Linked DNA regions of Homo sapiens: region 1 is linked to region 2. The links come from fine-mapping of genetic effects on gene expression. Tissue or cell type: whole blood. Region 2 holds a variant in brackets; the other region holds the start of a gene. All regions are shown on one strand. Distances are from middle to middle.

Region 1 (8,100 bases), 34 kb after region 2:
TCACCTTTTTTTTTTTTTTTGAGATAGGGTCTCGCTCTGTAACCCAGGCTACAATTGTGACTCACTACAGCCTCTTGACCTCCCAGCTCAAGTGGTCCTCCCACCTCAGCCTCCTGAGTAGCTGAGACTATAGGTATAGCCTCGCACCACCACACCCAGCTAATTTTTTTTTTTTTTTTTTTTTTTTTTTTTTTTTTGAGACGGAGTCTTGCTCTGTCGCCCAGGCTGGAGTTCAGTGGCGGGATCTCGGCTCACTGCAAGCTCCGCCTCCCGGGTTCACGCCATTCTCCCGCCTCAGCCTCCCAAGTAGCTGGGACTACAGGCGCCCGCCACTACGCCCGGCTAATTTTTTGTATTTTTAGTAGAGACGGGGTTTCACCATTTTAGCCGGGATGGTCTCGATCTCCTGACCTCATGATCCGCCCGCCTCGGCCTCCCAAAGTGCTGGGATTACAGGCGTGAGCCACCGCGCCCGGCCACCCAGCTAATTTTTTAAAAACATTTTGTACACTTTGGGAGGCTAAGGCGGGAGGATCACGAGGTCAGGAGCTCGAGACCATCCTGGCTAACACGGTGAAACCCTGTCTCTACTAAAAAATACAAAAAAATTAGCTGGGCGTGGTGGCGGGCGCCTGTAGTCCCAGCTACTCGGGAGGCTGAGGCAGGAGAATGGTGTGAACCAGGGAGGCGGAGCTTTCAGTGAGCCGAGATCGCGCCACTGCACTCCAGCCTCGGAGACAGAGCGAGACTCCGTCCCAAAAAAAAAAAAAAAAAAAATTTGTAGAGACAGGGGTCTCACTTTGTTGCTCAGGCTGGTTTTGAACTCCTGGGCTCAAGCAATCCTCCCGCCTCAGCCTCCCAAAGTGCTGAGATTACAGGCATGAGCCACCACACCTGGCCAAATCAGCTATTCTGAAAGGCCCCTTTAATCTCTATGAGCCCCAGACTTTCAAACTGTAAGGACCTTAGGACTGTAACTAAAGTTCTACAGAGCCTAAACCCCTCAGCTAAAGAGCCTATTGTTGGAAAGTTCTGAGTCCAAGATTCTATCTTTGGAACATTCTAGAATTCTCCAATTTGTCTAACCCAGAATTCTGAGTCTTTCTGTACCACATTCTACCTAACCCAGGGTTGCACTGCTCTGGAAGTCTAGATGGATGGTATAGTGCAGCTGGTAAAAGCATGAGTAAGAAGTCAGACTTCAAAAATTCAAATCTGAGGGCCGGGCATGGTAGCTTCTGCCTGTAATCCTTGCACTTTGGGAGGCCGAGGGGGGAGGATCACTTGAGGCCAGGAGTTCAAGACCAACATGGCCAACACAATGAGACCCCATTTCTTAAAAAAAATTAAAATAAAATCATCAAATCTGGCAGCACCACCGTCCAACCCTGACCACAGTACCTCAGTCTCGTAATCCGTAAAATGGGGATGAAAGTTCACCTCATAGGACTACTGTAAGAATCCACCTGGTCAGAAGGTGCAGGAAGAATTCAGAGCTCTGAGAATTGAGGCCTCAGGAAGAAGAGACTACAGGAATAAAAACTCGGGCATTTAGAATTTCAGAGATACACAAACAATACTTTGTTAACTGTTAAAATAGATAAATGAGCAAGTCTGTGCAGCCCTAATGCCAGCTGTAAGTGACTCTTTTTTTTTCTTTTGGTAGAGATTTAGTCTCTCTCGCGCCTGTGGTTAGGCTGGTCTCGAACTCCTAGCCTCATGGGATCCTCCCCGGCTCGATCTCCCAAAGTATTGGGATTACAGGCGTGAGCCACGGCGCCATGATCCCCAAATTTCCAAGATTCTCAGATTCCATACTGACATTCTCTGGCTCTCAGGAAATGCCAACCCTGGGTGTGGGGCTGTCGCGGGGACAGGCGGTGGGGACGTCGGAGCCACCAGGGGGCGGTCACGCCCGGACCCCCGCCAGGAGGGCGGACTGCGCCTGAGCTCAGGCCCGGGGAATGCGCAGCGGGCCCGGGCAGGTGCTGTACATCCCGGGGCAAGGGAGCTGGGCCGGGCGGGGTACAAGGGCGGGGCGCGGGGGTGGCGCGGGCCGTGTGTCTGTTCCCAGGCCTCTGCCCCTGACCTCTGCCTCCGAGTCCTCTCCCATGTGCTCCCCTCTAGCTCTAGCTCCGAGCTCTCCCGCGGGCTCTGGGCCAGCCGCAGGTACTCTCCCCTGGGCTCCTCTCTCCGCTCCACCCCTGGCTCTCCTTCCCTGGCCTCCTCTGCACCCCAGCCAGGTTCTTTAGGGCTAAGGATCCTGTGGACTTCCTGGAGGAGTCATCTTCAGTAGGAACCGGGTCAGAGAGCCAGACTGAGCTGGGAACACCCAGGCTGGACTCCTACAGCCCTGTCGGGTCACACTGAATCTGGAGAGGCTCCACTGTCTCTGGGACTCGGTTTCCTCCTTTGTGGACGTCTATGGAATGGGCTAGGGCCTTTCTTGCTCTAAGCCTCTACTTGGGCTTGTTATTTAGCTTCTCTGTGCCTGTTTCCTCATGTGGACCATGGGAAGAATTAATACCTTCGCCTCAAAGGGGTATGAGGATTGAGTGACATAATTTATAAGCCGTGATTAGAACAATGCAGTGCGCGAAATAAAGTTCACACATACAGGATTCATAATTACCAGATGTCCTTGGCTGTTCATTATAATAACACAGGGTCTGGCAACAGAGTGAGGGGTCCAGACTCAATGTAATTTTTTTTTCCCCTAAAAGGGCCCTTTCAACTCTTTCTGAGATCATACAAGCCCTGAGTTTTGACACCCAGGGTCTCAACTTCCTGAGCCCTTGCCTCTCAGAGTCCTAAATTTCCCCTGTACATTCCTGAGTCTGGCCAGTGATCACCCTCAGTCACTTAGGGACGGGAGGGCTGGGAGAGCCCTGGAAGATTCCAGACAGAAGCTGGCAAAAGCCCAGGGTGTGGGCAATATCCACTCTCCAGCCTCCGTTTCTCCACTCGTAATGAGGAGTCCTTCCCTGGGGTCAGCAAACCTTATTCAAAGGGAGACCTCTCAGTCACCCAAGATTCCTCTAGACAATGCGAGCTTTCCTACCTACCTACCTACCAGCTCTGAGCTTGGTACACCCAGAGCCCTGTTTTGGCAACCACGGTTATTATTTTTAATTTCATTTCAGGTTATCATCAAATGCCCTTCAAGCCCAGACATTGGGAAACACTCCTCTCTCATCAGATGCTCGCCTCCCCCATTCTGTTTTTAATCCCCCTTCTTAGGACGCATGGGGGTGGAGAGAACGGGGAGATAGACAGAGGGAGGTGCCTGGTCCTGCCCTCCCCCCGCCTCAAGGACAGACAGACACCTCCAGAATTAGCCTCTGTCCCTCCCTTATCTCCCACAATACCCCAGGTCAGACAGATGGGCGTGGAGGTGACATTTCTCACCTCAGGGTCAGGGCAAGGAGCCCTGAGGCAGAAGGTTAGTCAGAAAATCTGGCGGGGGCGGATGGAATCCCGTCCCCCAGAGAGCTGCAGAAGAAGGAGGAGGCAGAATCCTGACCCTACAAACTCTACTGCCTGTGTGAGCTCCAAGCCTCAGTTTACCCCTTCCTCTCCGTGTAATGGTTAAATGCCCGGCTATGCAAACCTCCCAGAATCCAATAGCCGCTTTCCGGAATTCTGCCCTGGGTTCTAGAACTACCTCTGCAAACCCAGCTGTTTCCCACCCCATAAGGCAATAGGGGAGCCCACCTCCGCCAGGGGGTGCCCTAGGGCGGATGTCCCTTCTCTGGTTAGGCAGGTCTGACGCCCAGGTTAATGACATGTTGGGTTCGCTCAGCGGCACAGAGGAGGTTGGAGATCTGCCTCGGTGTTTTCTCTCCTACCCCGCCCCCATCCCCGAGCCGAAAAGTCGGGGGAGAGCCGGGACACAGCCTCCGGAGGGACCCCGGGTACCTGTCCTGCTCCACTTCAGGAACCCAGGCTCCACTATCCCTGCCCCACCCTTAATTCTGCTCAGAGACCTAGAAGATCGGTCGAGACAGCAGCTTGAGGCTGGCAGGGTGGTCACCCATTCCACCTTGAGCCCCACCAGTCTGAGCCTCTCATTTCTGACCAAGACTCGGGGATTCGAACCCCTATACTACCCAAAGACTCGGCTTCCTAGAGCCCCCCAGTTCGAGGGACTCAGGAATTCCAGCTCCAACGTCTCCCCGGGATGAAGGGGTAGAATCCCTCCATTCCAAGAATTCAGGCATCCGAACCCGCTTTCCTTCCCTCCAGTAAAACAGGCAACGGAGTTTCCTTCTAAGGATCCAGGTGTCGGCGCGCCCCAAATTCCGCCCTGGGACCTGGCGTCCGAGTCCCCTCCCAATCCTCCCAGGGACGCGGGTGTTGGGCTTTTTCAGGGCCTCTGGTCCCCAGGAGGGTGAAACTCACGGATCCGGGCAGATCCTGGCACCTGGGGGCTTCCTCCAGCTCGGGCTCCGGCTTGGGGAGCGGAGAACGGGGCGGGGCAGGAGCTGGGAACAGGTTAGACGACGTGACTTGGGCTGGAGGGAGGCGGGTCCCGGTGGGGAGGGGGAGCCAAGGTCGCCTCGAGCACCTTGGGACTTGTAGTCCCGGAGGGACAGGACGTAGCCCAAGACGATCCCATTTGGATTCACCCAGAGTCCATTTCACAGACAGGAAGGGCGAGGCCCAGAAGCCGAGAGCGACCAGGCCAGGGAGATACAGAAGAGCCGAGACGCCTGCCTCGCTGTGGCTGGAGACTGACTCCTGAGCCCTTGCCCCACCCCTTCAGGCGCACTATCCCCTTTCCTGATCAGTATCCCCCAGGGTCTCTGAGCCCGAATCTCCCCGTCGATAAAAAGCGCGGGTTGGATCTTCAAAGGATGTCCCAGCAAGAGTTCAAAATCTTAGTTTGGACTACAACCCCCAGCAGCCTCCGCGACCGCCCTCGGGCGACTCTTTGCCTCGGGTCCTGTGGGAATTGTAGTCCTGGAGCCCGCAGGGGCTGCACCCCGGTGTCTCTCTCGCCCACGCGAAGGAAACCGTCTGGAGATCCTGGATAGGGGAAACATTTCCCCTTCCCCTTGACCCTCCCTCCGCTCTGGAAAGCCTCTCCCACCTGGGGAGAAGGGGTGCCCCAATTCTGGAGTAGGATCCTAAATCTTGGCAGAGGGGGCGGGAAGTGGCGCTGACACACTGGCCAGGAATGCAGTCGGGTCACCCTGTCTAGCCACCGTCTCGCGGCTCCAACCGCCGCCCAACGCGGGGCGGCCCCAGTGGGAAGGGAAGTGGGTGCGTCCCCCAAATCTGTGTCCACGTGCCGCTGTTTACACGCTCCCTGGGGCAGGGAGGAGTCGCCGATCAGGTCCCTTCCTGAAAGTCATCGAGGTTTCCCACGCATGAGACTAAACCCCCGAGGGCATCTACAAGTCCCATTTGATCCACAAACGCTACACCGTGCCCAGCACCACTCCACGCGTGTGGGGCTCCTGGGTCCGAGGCTCCGCCCTCGAGAACCACAAGCTCCTCCCCCTATGTTTCCCGCTCCCCCGGAGTCCAGAAGCCCCGCCCCTGGCTGGAACTTCACGCCCTCCGGACGGATTGCCCCTATTTCTCCATTTTCCCGCTTCTCCCAGTCAAGTTCTGAACTTGTGAGGCATCTGGGCCTCCCCAGAAGACATTTAACACAGAAAGCACAGCCCTACTAACTAGTATTCTTACCTGTCTCTTCAAGAATTTCAGACCAATCGACCGTCCTGTCTCTTTAAGGCTTAGGAAGAGCAGTGTGGCTGCCCCTTTAAGGAGGCGTTGCAACAAACCATATTGGACAGACGATGGGGGCGACCCATCGGGACCCGACGGGCCTCTGACTCCAGCAATACAGCGAATCAGCGGCTTTCGGGAATACATTTTTCGGAAAAAGACTTCTTCCTCGGTTTTCTGCTCTGCACACGTTGAAATTTTCCCCAGTTTTTCCTGCAGATCGGGAGTCGAGCAATGCCTACCCCCGCGCTCCCGCACCAGTTGGGCGCTCCCGGATGATGCCCTACCCCTTTGGATCCACGTGGTCTGCAACCTGGTGCGAGCAGCCCGGGCTACAGGGTTGCCTGAGGTGTGGGTCCCAGGATGGAGGAGCCCCAGGCCGGCGGTGAGGGTGCGGGTTGACGGGGTGCGGAGGGTGCGTTGGTGGAAGGAGAAAGGGGCGTCCGAGAGGGTTCGGGCGGAAAAGGAGGCGTACCTGCAAGCAGGACTTGCGAAGAGCGTGCATTCCCAGTGGGCGAACGGGAATTCGAACGGAGAGAGGGTTATCTTGTGGGGGGCTACCCGTGGAGAGCAAGGCGCCCCCAGGGGTTGGATCGGTGAAATTGAGGTCGCCCCTGGGGAACAGGTGGGCAGAAAGGAGAAACCAGGTTGAGGGGACTGGAGTGCTCACGAGGTTAAGACCAATGGACCGATAGGCGCGCCCTGCAAGATTGGACCGGCAAGGAGGTGTCAGTCGACCCCATTTCCCCTTCTGCTGCAGATGCTGCTCGGTTCTCTTGTCCCCCCAACTTTACCGCGAAGCCCCCAGCCTCAGAGTCCCCTCGTTTCTCCTTGGAGGCGCTGACGGGTCCAGATACGGAGCTGTGGCTTATTCAGGCCCCTGCAGACTTTGCCCCAGAATGGTGAGTGGTCTTGTTGACGGAAAAGAGGGTCCCGGTCCAGACCCCAAGAGCGGGTTCTTGAATTTGTCACAGGAAAGAATTAGAGGTGAGTCACAGAGCACAGTGAAAGAAACAAGTTTATTGGAAACTACTCCTTTACAGAGTAGAGTGTCCTCAGAAAGCAGGGGGAGAAACCCACAGCCCTTTGTTAGTATTTCTACTTATAAGAAACTATAAGGAACTATAGTTAAACTTGGAGTGTGCAGATAAGCTCACTAAAGGTAGGGGCTATTGGTGTTATCCACGACCATTAATCCTGCAACCTAAGCTTGCTCATTTATGTTATATTTAAGTAATGGGGGCTGCATTCTTAGGACATTTGGACATTCTGCAGGCTTGGTGGAACATGTTCTGTATGGCCATAAATATTCTGTAATTATAATTGGTGGTCAGCCTGGGATGTGGTTATTTTCAGGCCATAAGCATGAACCTTGTAAGTGCCTAGCTACTCACTTTAAGATGGAGTCACTCTAGTCATGTTTTATTAAAAACCAGAGGCCAGCCAGGCGCAGTGGCTGGTGCCTGTAATCCCATCCTTTGGGAGGCCGAGGCGAGCAGATCACTTGAGGTCAGGAGTTCAAGACCAGCCTGGCCAACATAGTGAAATTGTCTCTACTAAAAATACAAAAATTGGCTGGGCGTGGTGGCAGGTGCCTGTAATCCCAGCTACTTGAGAGGCTGAGGCAGGAGAATCGCTTGAACCCAGGAGGTGGACATTGCAGTGAGCCGAGATCATGCCACTGCACTCCAGCCTAGGCAACAGAGCAAGACTCTCTCAAAAAAAAACAAAAAAAAAATCAAAAAACCTTCCCTCTCCTGTTCCACTTAAGCCTCTGCCCTCCCTGTTTCTCTCTGTAGCTTCAATGGGCGGCATGTGCCTCTCTCTGGCTCCCAGATCGTCAAGGGCAAATTGGCAGGCAAGCGGCACCGCTATCGAGTCCTCAGCAGCTGTCCCCAAGCTGGAGAAGCGACCCTGCTGGCCCCCTCAACGGAGGCAGGAGGTGGACTCACCTGTGCCTCAGCCCCCCAGGGCACCCTAAGGATCCTTGAGGGTCCCCAGCAATCCCTGTCAGGGAGCCCTCTGCAGCCCATCCCAGCAAGTCCCCCACCACAGATCCCTCCTGGCCTGAGGCCTCGGTTCTGTGCCTTTGGGGGCAACCCACCAGTCACAGGGCCTAGGTCAGCCTTGGCCCCCAACCTGCTCACCTCAGGGAAGAAGAAAAAGGAGATGCAGGTGACAGAGGCCCCAGTCACTCAGGAGGCAGTGAATGGGCACGGGGCCCTGGAGGTGGACATGGCTTTGGGGTCGCCAGAAATGGATGTGCGGAAGAAGAAGAAGAAAAAAAATCAGCAGCTGAAAGAACCAGAGGCAGCAGGGCCTGTGGGGACAGAGCCCACAGTGGAGACACTGGAGCCTCTGGGA
Region 2 (8,101 bases):
TTGTGGTGAACCGAGATCACGCCACTGCACTCCAGCCTGGGCAACAAGAGTGAAACTCCATTTCAAAAATAATAATAATAAATAAGGCTGGGCACGATGGCTCATGCCTGTAATCCCAGCACTTTGGGAGGCTGAGGCGGGAGGATCACAAGGTCGGGAGTTAGAGACCAGCCTAACCAACATGGTGAAACACCGTCTCTACTAAAAACACACAAATTAGCCGGGTGTAGTGGGGCACCTGTAATCCTAGCTACTCAGGAGGCTGAGGCAGGAGAATTGCTTGAACCCGGGAGGCGGAGCTTGTAGTAAGCCAAGATCACTCCCCTGCACTCCAGGCTGGGTGACAGAGTGAGACTCCGTCTCAAAAACAAAACAAAACAAAAATATATATATATATACACACACACACACACACACACACACACACACATATAAAAACATATATACACACACATATATATGTAAGTATAATATATACACATATATACATTCTGTGGGTTACCACATGTAAAGTATTCAGAACAGTGCCTGGCACACAGTGAGTACAATTTTTTTTTTTTTTTGAGACGGAGTTTCACTCTTGTTGCCCAGGCTGGAGTGCAGTGGCGCGATCTCGGCTCACTGCAACCTCCCCCTCGGGAGTTCGAGCAATTCTCCTGTCTCAGCCTCCCAAGTAGCTGGGATTACAGGCATGTGCCCAGCTAATTTTTCAATTTTTTTTCAGTAGAGACGGGGTTTCTCCATATTGGCCAGGCTGGTCTCAAACTCCCGACCTCAGGTGTCCACCCGCCTCGGCCTCCCAAAGTGCTGGGATTATAGTCGTGAGTCACCATGCCCAGCCAAGTACAATGATTTTATAGCATAATTTAATGATAACTAATATTGTATTTGTCATATATCATTATGCATATAAATATCATGACAATTTCTTTTTTTTTTTTTTTAAGACAGAGTCTCACTCTGTCACCCAGGCTGGAATGCAGTGGCATGACCTCAGCTCACTGCAACCTCTGCCTCCTGGGTACAAGCGATTGGCATTACCGACGTGTACACCACCACCCCCGGCTAATTTTTGTATTTTTAGTAGAAATGGGGTTTCGCCGTGTTGGCCAGGATGGTCTCGAACTCCTGACCTCAAATGATCTGCCCACCTCAGACTCCCAAAGTGCTGGGACTACAAGCGTGAACCACTGCACCTGGCCTATCATGAGAATTTCTAACATTCTTTTAGCTCTTTGTACATGCTAAGGGCATCGGCTGCAACATTTCACCCAATTTTATCATCAGCAACCTTATGAAGCAGGTACATAATTATCCCCATTTTACAGAAAGGAAGACTGAGGCCCAGGTGGCAGAAAATGCCTCTCCATAAATACTGGGCTAGTAAGTTTCAGAGCCAGGAAACCAGGCTTGCCAGAGACTCTAAGAGCTGCCTTTTTAACCTCTCCTAGGCCTGGGTAGAATTTGAAGACTCCCTGGAGGAAGTGTGCTTGCCTGGGCCACGATGAATGAGAATTTGACCACTGAGACGGGAATTCTGTGTGTAGCCACTGCATGCCTTTGCAAGAGATATGGCCTGGGGATCCAGGACTTGTGGTTGGACGAAAGAGTTTTCTCTACCTCTGGGCTAAGGGCAAGGAGAAGGAACAGGTGCTCACCTCAGGGTGAATACACAAGTTTTTGCGGGAGCTCAGAGCCAGTCCCAGAAACGGCAGCTTCTCGCCCTCCTGCTTCTCATAGAAGTTGAGCAACTTTCGAAGCTCTTCAATCACCTACTCCAAAGTTGGGGGGCAGGGGGAGCTTGTGCTCATTGGAGGCACAAACCCCTGCCCTGCCAGGTCCCAGTCTCTTCCCCAGCTTCCCAAACACCCCCGAAAGCTGGTGACGGCCACCGCCAGGGGGACCAATAGGGCCTAGGGAACAGTGGGGCTGGAGCACCAGGATGAGTCCCAGCTTACCTTCTCAATCTCTGGCACAGTTCTTGAGCAGTAGATGAGTTTGGTCACCTCCAGCGGATATGCCTGCCGATAACAAGCGGACTCAGTCCCTGTCCCGCCCCTTCCTTTGTCTGCCTTTACGGGTTCAGCGCATCACTCACTCTCTGGTATGCCATGATCAGGGCCAACAGGGATACTGTCTTCCCGGTGCCTGAGGGCATCTCCAGGACTCCATGACCCTGCATGTTGGGGACCAGAGGGGCAACACACAGGGTCTCAGAACCTTGGGCACACAAACTCTGGGGACTCTCCCCGACCCCCAATGCCACCAACTCAGAACAGCAGGATAACACAGCAGCAGTTAAGATTGGGCAGTGGGTTTGAACCTCACTTCTGCCTCCTCCTTGTTGAGTGGTCTTAGGCAAGTACCTTCACCTCCCCAGACCTCAGTATCCCTATCTCTAAAATGAGCCTAAAGCCAGGCGTGGTGGCTCACACCTGTAATCCCAGCACTTTGGGAGGCTGAGGCAGGTGAACCACCTGAGGTCAGAAGTTCAAGACCAGCTGGGCCAACAAGGTGAAACCCCGTCTCTACTAAAAATACAAAAAATTAGCCAGATGTGGTGGCGCGCACCTGTAATTCAATCTCAAAAATAAATAAATAAAATAAAATGGGCCTAATAATAAAACCTTCCTCATAACATGACTATGAGGATTGTGAGAAATTGCAGGTTAAATATTTGGCACAGTAGCTGATATATAGTGAACTTTTCTCCCTTCTTTTTTAAGAGACAAGTGTCACTATTGCCCAGGCTGGAATGCAGTGGCACAATCATGGCTCACTGCAGCCTCCAACTCCTGGCCTCAAGCGATCCTCCTGCCTCAGCCTCCCGAGTAGGTGGGATTACAGGCGCCCGCCACCACACCTGGCTAATTTTTGTATTTTTAGTACAGACGGGGTTTCACCGTGTTGGCCAGGCTGGTCTCCAACTCCTGACCTCAAGTGATCCGCCCGCCTCGTCCTCCCAAAGCTCTGGGATTACAGGCGCGAGCCACCGCGCCCAGCCTATTCACCATTATTGTTTTAGATAACGGAAGATTATGGGGTCCTGGATTCCCAGGGACCTCGGACTTCTAAAATCCAGACGTCCTGCAATCTGTCTTAGGCCCAGGCGTGGCAGCCCCACCGGTCGAGTGGGCGGGTCGGGCCCACCGGCCACCCACCTTGGCGTCCAGCGTGCGTTTGAGCTCCCGCATGTAGGAGAACTGCTCGGGGTAGATGTAGTCGTACGGGAAGTAGACCAGGAGCCCGTCCACGTTGAGCCTGGCGGCAGGGGCTGCTGGGTCAGTTCCCGTCCCCTCAGCCCCTCTCCCGCCTCCACAGTGCCCGGTCGTCGAGCCCAGAGAAGGGTGACGGGCCCGGCGCCCCCGGTAACCCTCAGGTCCTCAGGAGCCTCGGGGCCCCCTCAGTGTCTCCTCGCTATCACTGCTGCTCCCTGCGGCTGCCCCCGTCCCACCCCTTCACCCTCCCCTCGCCCCCTTGGGGACCCAGGCGCGCCCACCGATGACCCCATCTTCAAGACCCCCCGCGCCCGCTAGCGAGCGCGACCCCCAGCCCCCTTCTCACTTCATGGCGCCGGCCGGACTGTGCAGCGGGGTCGACCCGCCTCCCTCATGAATATTCAGCGAGAGGCCGGGTCGTGGACATCCTCGAGGGCTCGCTCCACCTATATTACGAGACCATTGGCTAACCTGCCCGTCAATCCGCTAGGGCAGAGCCAATCGGGATACTGCGCGTGCGCACGGAAAAGCGAGGGCGGC[T/G]GACTCTCGGGTGAGGCGGTGCGGGAGGCGTCACTGAGGATCGTCGAGGGCCAATCAAAAAGAAAACATGGAAGGGAAAGAGCCGAGAGACTCGATCTCATTCACTAGAATTTGGTCCTCCTGCGCCTGCCAAGATTGTCTGAGTATTGATCGAACCCAGGAGTTCGAGATCAGCTTGAGCAAGATAGCGAGAACCCCCGCCCCTCCACCTCGTCTCAAAAAAAAAAAAAAATCGTCTCAGTAGCGAATAGTCTAACGGAGAATGACAGGGAAATTGGTGATCCTTTCTGGGCCCAAGAGTTAGAAATGGCTTTGCAGGCCGGGCGCGGTGGCTCAAGCCTGTAATCCCAGCACTTTGGGAGGCTGAGGCAGGTGGATCACCTGAGGTCGGGAGTTCAAGACCAGCCTGACCAACATGGAGAAAACCTGTCTCTACTAAAGATACAAAATTAGCCGGGCGTGCTGGCAAATGCTTGTAATCCCAGCTACTCGGGAGGCTGAAGCAGGAGAATTGCTTGAACCTGGGAGGCAGAGGTTGCAGTGAGCAGAGATGGCGCCGTCGCACTCTAGCCTGGGCAACAAAAGCGAAACTCCATTTCAAATATTAATAATAATAACTAATAAATAAAACATAAATGCTAGCTTTTGTTTGTTTCTTCAACAAATAGCTATGTGGCATCTACCATGTGTCTGATCCTGTGCTGGCCCCTGGGAACAGAAAGGTGACCATGACAGCCTCAGCACCTGCCCTCAAAGAACAGATTTTTTTCCTTGAGACAGGGTCTTTCTCTGTCGCCAAGGCTGGAGTGCAGTGGCACAGTCACAGCTCACTGCAGCCTCCACCTCTTGGGCTCAAGCGATCCTCCCACCTCAGCTTCCAGAGTAGCTGGGACCACAGGTGTGCACCACCAAGCCCAGCTAAGTTTTATTTTTTAAATTTTTTTAGAGACGAGGTCTCACCACGTTGCCCAGGCTGGTTAAACTCGCAGGTTCAAGTGATCCTCTCCCCTCAGCCTTTCAAATTGTTGGGATTACAGGGGTGAGGCACCAGGCCTGGCCTCAAAGAACAGATATTAAATATACAAATGAATATATGATTACAGCCTGGAGTGGTGGCTCGTGCCTGTGGTTCCAACACTTTGGAAGGCCAAGGCGAGTACATTGCTTGAGCTCAGGAGCTAGAGACCAGCCTGGGCAACATGGTGAAAACCCGTCTCTACAAAAAATGCAAAAATTAGCTGGGCGTGGTGGCGTGCACCTGTAGTCCCAGATACTCAGGAGGCTGAGGTGGGAGAATCACCTGGGCCTGGGAGGCAGAGGTTGCAATGGGCAGTGATTGTGCCACTGCACTCCAGCCTGGGCAACAGGAGTGAAAACCTATCTCAAATGTGTGTGTGTGTGTGTGTGTGTGTGTGTGTGCGCACGTGTATAATCACAAGTACAAAAGTGCTGTGAAGGAAAACTTCAAGTCACCATAAAGATTGATTATGGGCTGGGTGCAGTGGCTCATGCCTGTAATCCCAGCACTTTGGGAGGCCAAGGCAGATGGATCACGAGGTCAGGAGTTCAAGACCAGCCTGGTCAACATGGTGAAACCCTATCTCTACTAAAAAAAAAAAAAAAAAAAAAAAAGCCAGGCATAGTGGCATGCATCTGTAATCCCATCTACTCGGGAGGCTAAAGCAGGAGAATTGCTTGAACCCAGGAGGCAGAAGTGAGCCAAGATCACGCCACTGCACTCCAGCCTGCGTGACAGAGCAAGACTCCGTCCCAGAAAAAGAAAAAAAAAAAAGACTTATTATGACAGGATGTCTACTGTCAACTGTGGGGTGTGAGTGTTGGCCAAGTGATCAGAGAAGGCTTCGTGGAAGAAGCGAGGTTTGAGTAGAGCCAGAAAATAATTAGAAGAGATCAACCAGCAAGAGGGGATGGATGAGAGAAGTGAGAAAGGTGTTCCAGGGAGAGAGACCATCATACACAAAAGCTCTAGGCCAGAAGAAAGCTGAGGCCTGTGAGTGCTGAAAGGAAGCCTGTGGGGGTGGAGCTCTGAGTTGAGCACAGGGAGCAGAGAAAGGGCAGCTGGAGGGGAAGGCAGGGGCAGATCGAAATCTCTTTTTTAAATTAATTAATTCTTAATTTATTTATTTTTGAGACAAGGTCTCACTCTTTCGCCCAGACTGGAGTACAGTGGCACAATCTCAGCGCACCGCAACCTCTGCCACCCAGGCTCAAGCAATTCTCTGGCCTCAGCCTCCCTAGTAGCTGGGATTACAGGTGCGCACCACTACTGCCCAGCTAATTTTTATACTTTTAGTAGAAACGGGGTTTCACTATGTTGGCCAGGCTGGCCTCAAACTCCTGACCTCAAAAGATCCACCCACTTCAGCCTCCCAAAGTGCTGGGATTACAGGTGTGAGCCACCCTTCCCGGCTGTATTTTTGGAGACAGAGTCTTGCTCTGTCCCAGCCTGGAGTATGGTGGTGTGAATTTGGCTCATTGCCACCTTGACCTCCAGGGCTCAAGTGATCCTCCCACCTCAGCCTCCTGAGTAGCTGGGACTGCGGGTACACGACACCACGCCTGGTTAATTTTTTTTAATTTTTTGTAGAGACGAGGGTATCTCACTATGTTGTCCAGGCTGGTTGAACTCCTGAGCTCAAGCAATTCTCCCACCTCAGCCTCCCAAAGTGGTGGGATTACAGACGTGAGCCACTGTGCCCGGCTTAATTTATTTACATAAATTTTTTTATGTTTACTTTTCTATCTCCTACAGGAAGAAAATATATTTTGTTATTGACAGGGTCTCGCTATGTTGCCCAGGCTGGTATTGGGCTCAAGCCATCCTGTTCCCTCAGCCTCCCAAAGTACTGGGATTACAAGCGTGAGCCTCTGCATCCAGCCCAGATCCAAAATCTTTACTGTCACCTACAGAGTCCTCTGTAACTAGCTTACTGCTCATCATCCCCATACCAACCCACCTTACTGCTCTGATCTCCTCCTCTCTCTCCCCCAGCTCATTTTGTTTCAGCTATGCTGGTCTCCTTGCTGTCTCTAAAACATAACAAGCACATCCCATCTCAGGGCCTTTGCACCAGCTATTTTGTCTGCCTGGAATGCTGTTTCCCCTGATAGCCATGTGGCTGACACACTCACCTCCCTCAGCTCTTTGCTCAATTGTCAACTTCTCGGCCCGGCATGGTGGCTCACACCTGTAATCCTACCACTTTGGGAGGCTGAGGTGGGCAGATCACCTGAGATCAGGAGTTCGAGACCAGCCTGGCCAAGATGGTGAAATCCCGTCTCTACTAAAAATACAAAAATTGGCAAAGCATGGTAGCACATACCAGTAATCCTAGCTACCCGGGAGGCTGAGGCAGGAGAATTGCTGGAACCCGGGAGGCAGAGGCTGCAGTGAGCCAAGATCATGCCACTGTACTCCAGCCTGGGTGACAAAGCAAGACTCTGTCTCAAAAAAAAAAAAGTCTCCTTCTCAATGAGGGCTTCCTGACCACCAAATTAAATCTACCTCCTAGACACACACACACACGCACGCACGCACGCACACACACACACGCACGCACGCACACACACACACACACACACACTATATCCCCTTTCCCTGCTTTATTGTTCTTGAGAGCTCATTTAACCATGTGACATGCTGAATATTTTACTTATTTATTTTGTTTAGAAAGCTCCTGGCTGGGCGCGGGGGCTCACGCCTGTAATCCCAGCACTTTGGGAGGCTGGAACAGGTGGATCATGTGAGGTCAGGAGTTCCAGACCAGCCTGACCAACACGGTGAAACCTCATCTCTATTAAAAATGCAAAAATTAGCTGGGTGTGGTGTCGCATGCCTGTAATCCCAACTACTCAGAAGGCTGAAGCAGGAGAATCGCTTGAACCTGGGAGGCAGAGGTTAACGCTGAGCCGAGATCGCGCCATTGCACTCCAGCCTGGGCAACAAGAGTGAAACTCTGTCTCGAAAAAAACAAAAGTCAGCTCCATGGCAGGAGTGATGGCTCACGCCTATAATCCCAGCACTTTGTGAGGCCGAGGCGGGCGGATCACTTGAGGTCAGGAGTTGGAGACCAGCCTGGCCAACATGGTGAAACCTCATCTCTACTAAAAATACAAAAATTAGCCGGGCGTGGTGACACATGTCTGTAGTCCCAGCTACTTGGGAGGCTGAGGCTGGAGAATGGCTTGAACCTGGGAGGTAGAGGTTGCAGTAAGCCAAGATCGCGCCATTGCTCTCCATCCTGGGCAACAGACTCCGTCTCAGAAAGGAAGAAAGAAGGAAAGAGAGAAAGAGAGAAAGAGACAGAGAGAGAGAGAGAAAG

What was found. PIP is the estimated chance that this variant, and not a neighbour inherited with it, causes the effect.
Region 1: PPP1R13L starts here. The variant in region 2 is fine-mapped to the expression of PPP1R13L in whole blood (TOPMed, PIP above 0.99).

Annotation. Positions count from the first base shown.
Region 1 is chr19:45,400,598-45,408,697 of GRCh38, forward strand. It overlaps PPP1R13L (protein phosphatase 1 regulatory subunit 13 like), which reads right to left and starts at 4,472. Exons shown (of 13, transcript NM_006663.4): 1 at 4,402-4,472. It overlaps POLR1G (RNA polymerase I subunit G), which reads left to right and starts at 6,047. Exons shown (of 3, transcript NM_012099.3): 1 at 6,047-6,121; 2 at 6,497-6,638; 3 at 7,536-8,100. The coding sequence starts at 6,100. ERCC1 (ERCC excision repair 1, endonuclease non-catalytic subunit) reads right to left here. Exons shown (of 10, transcript NM_001983.4): 10 at 6,737-8,100. RefSeq lists silencers at 1,819-2,068, 2,109-2,198 and enhancers at 4,358-5,153, 5,124-5,323.
Region 2 is chr19:45,366,972-45,375,072 of GRCh38, forward strand. It overlaps ERCC2 (ERCC excision repair 2, TFIIH core complex helicase subunit), which reads right to left and starts at 3,602. Exons shown (of 23, transcript NM_000400.4): 1 at 3,565-3,602; 2 at 3,162-3,261; 3 at 2,099-2,176; 4 at 1,959-2,021; 5 at 1,659-1,772. The coding sequence starts at 3,569. RefSeq lists enhancers at 2,356-3,197, 3,816-3,895. The variant T/G (reference allele first, on the strand shown) is at 3,759.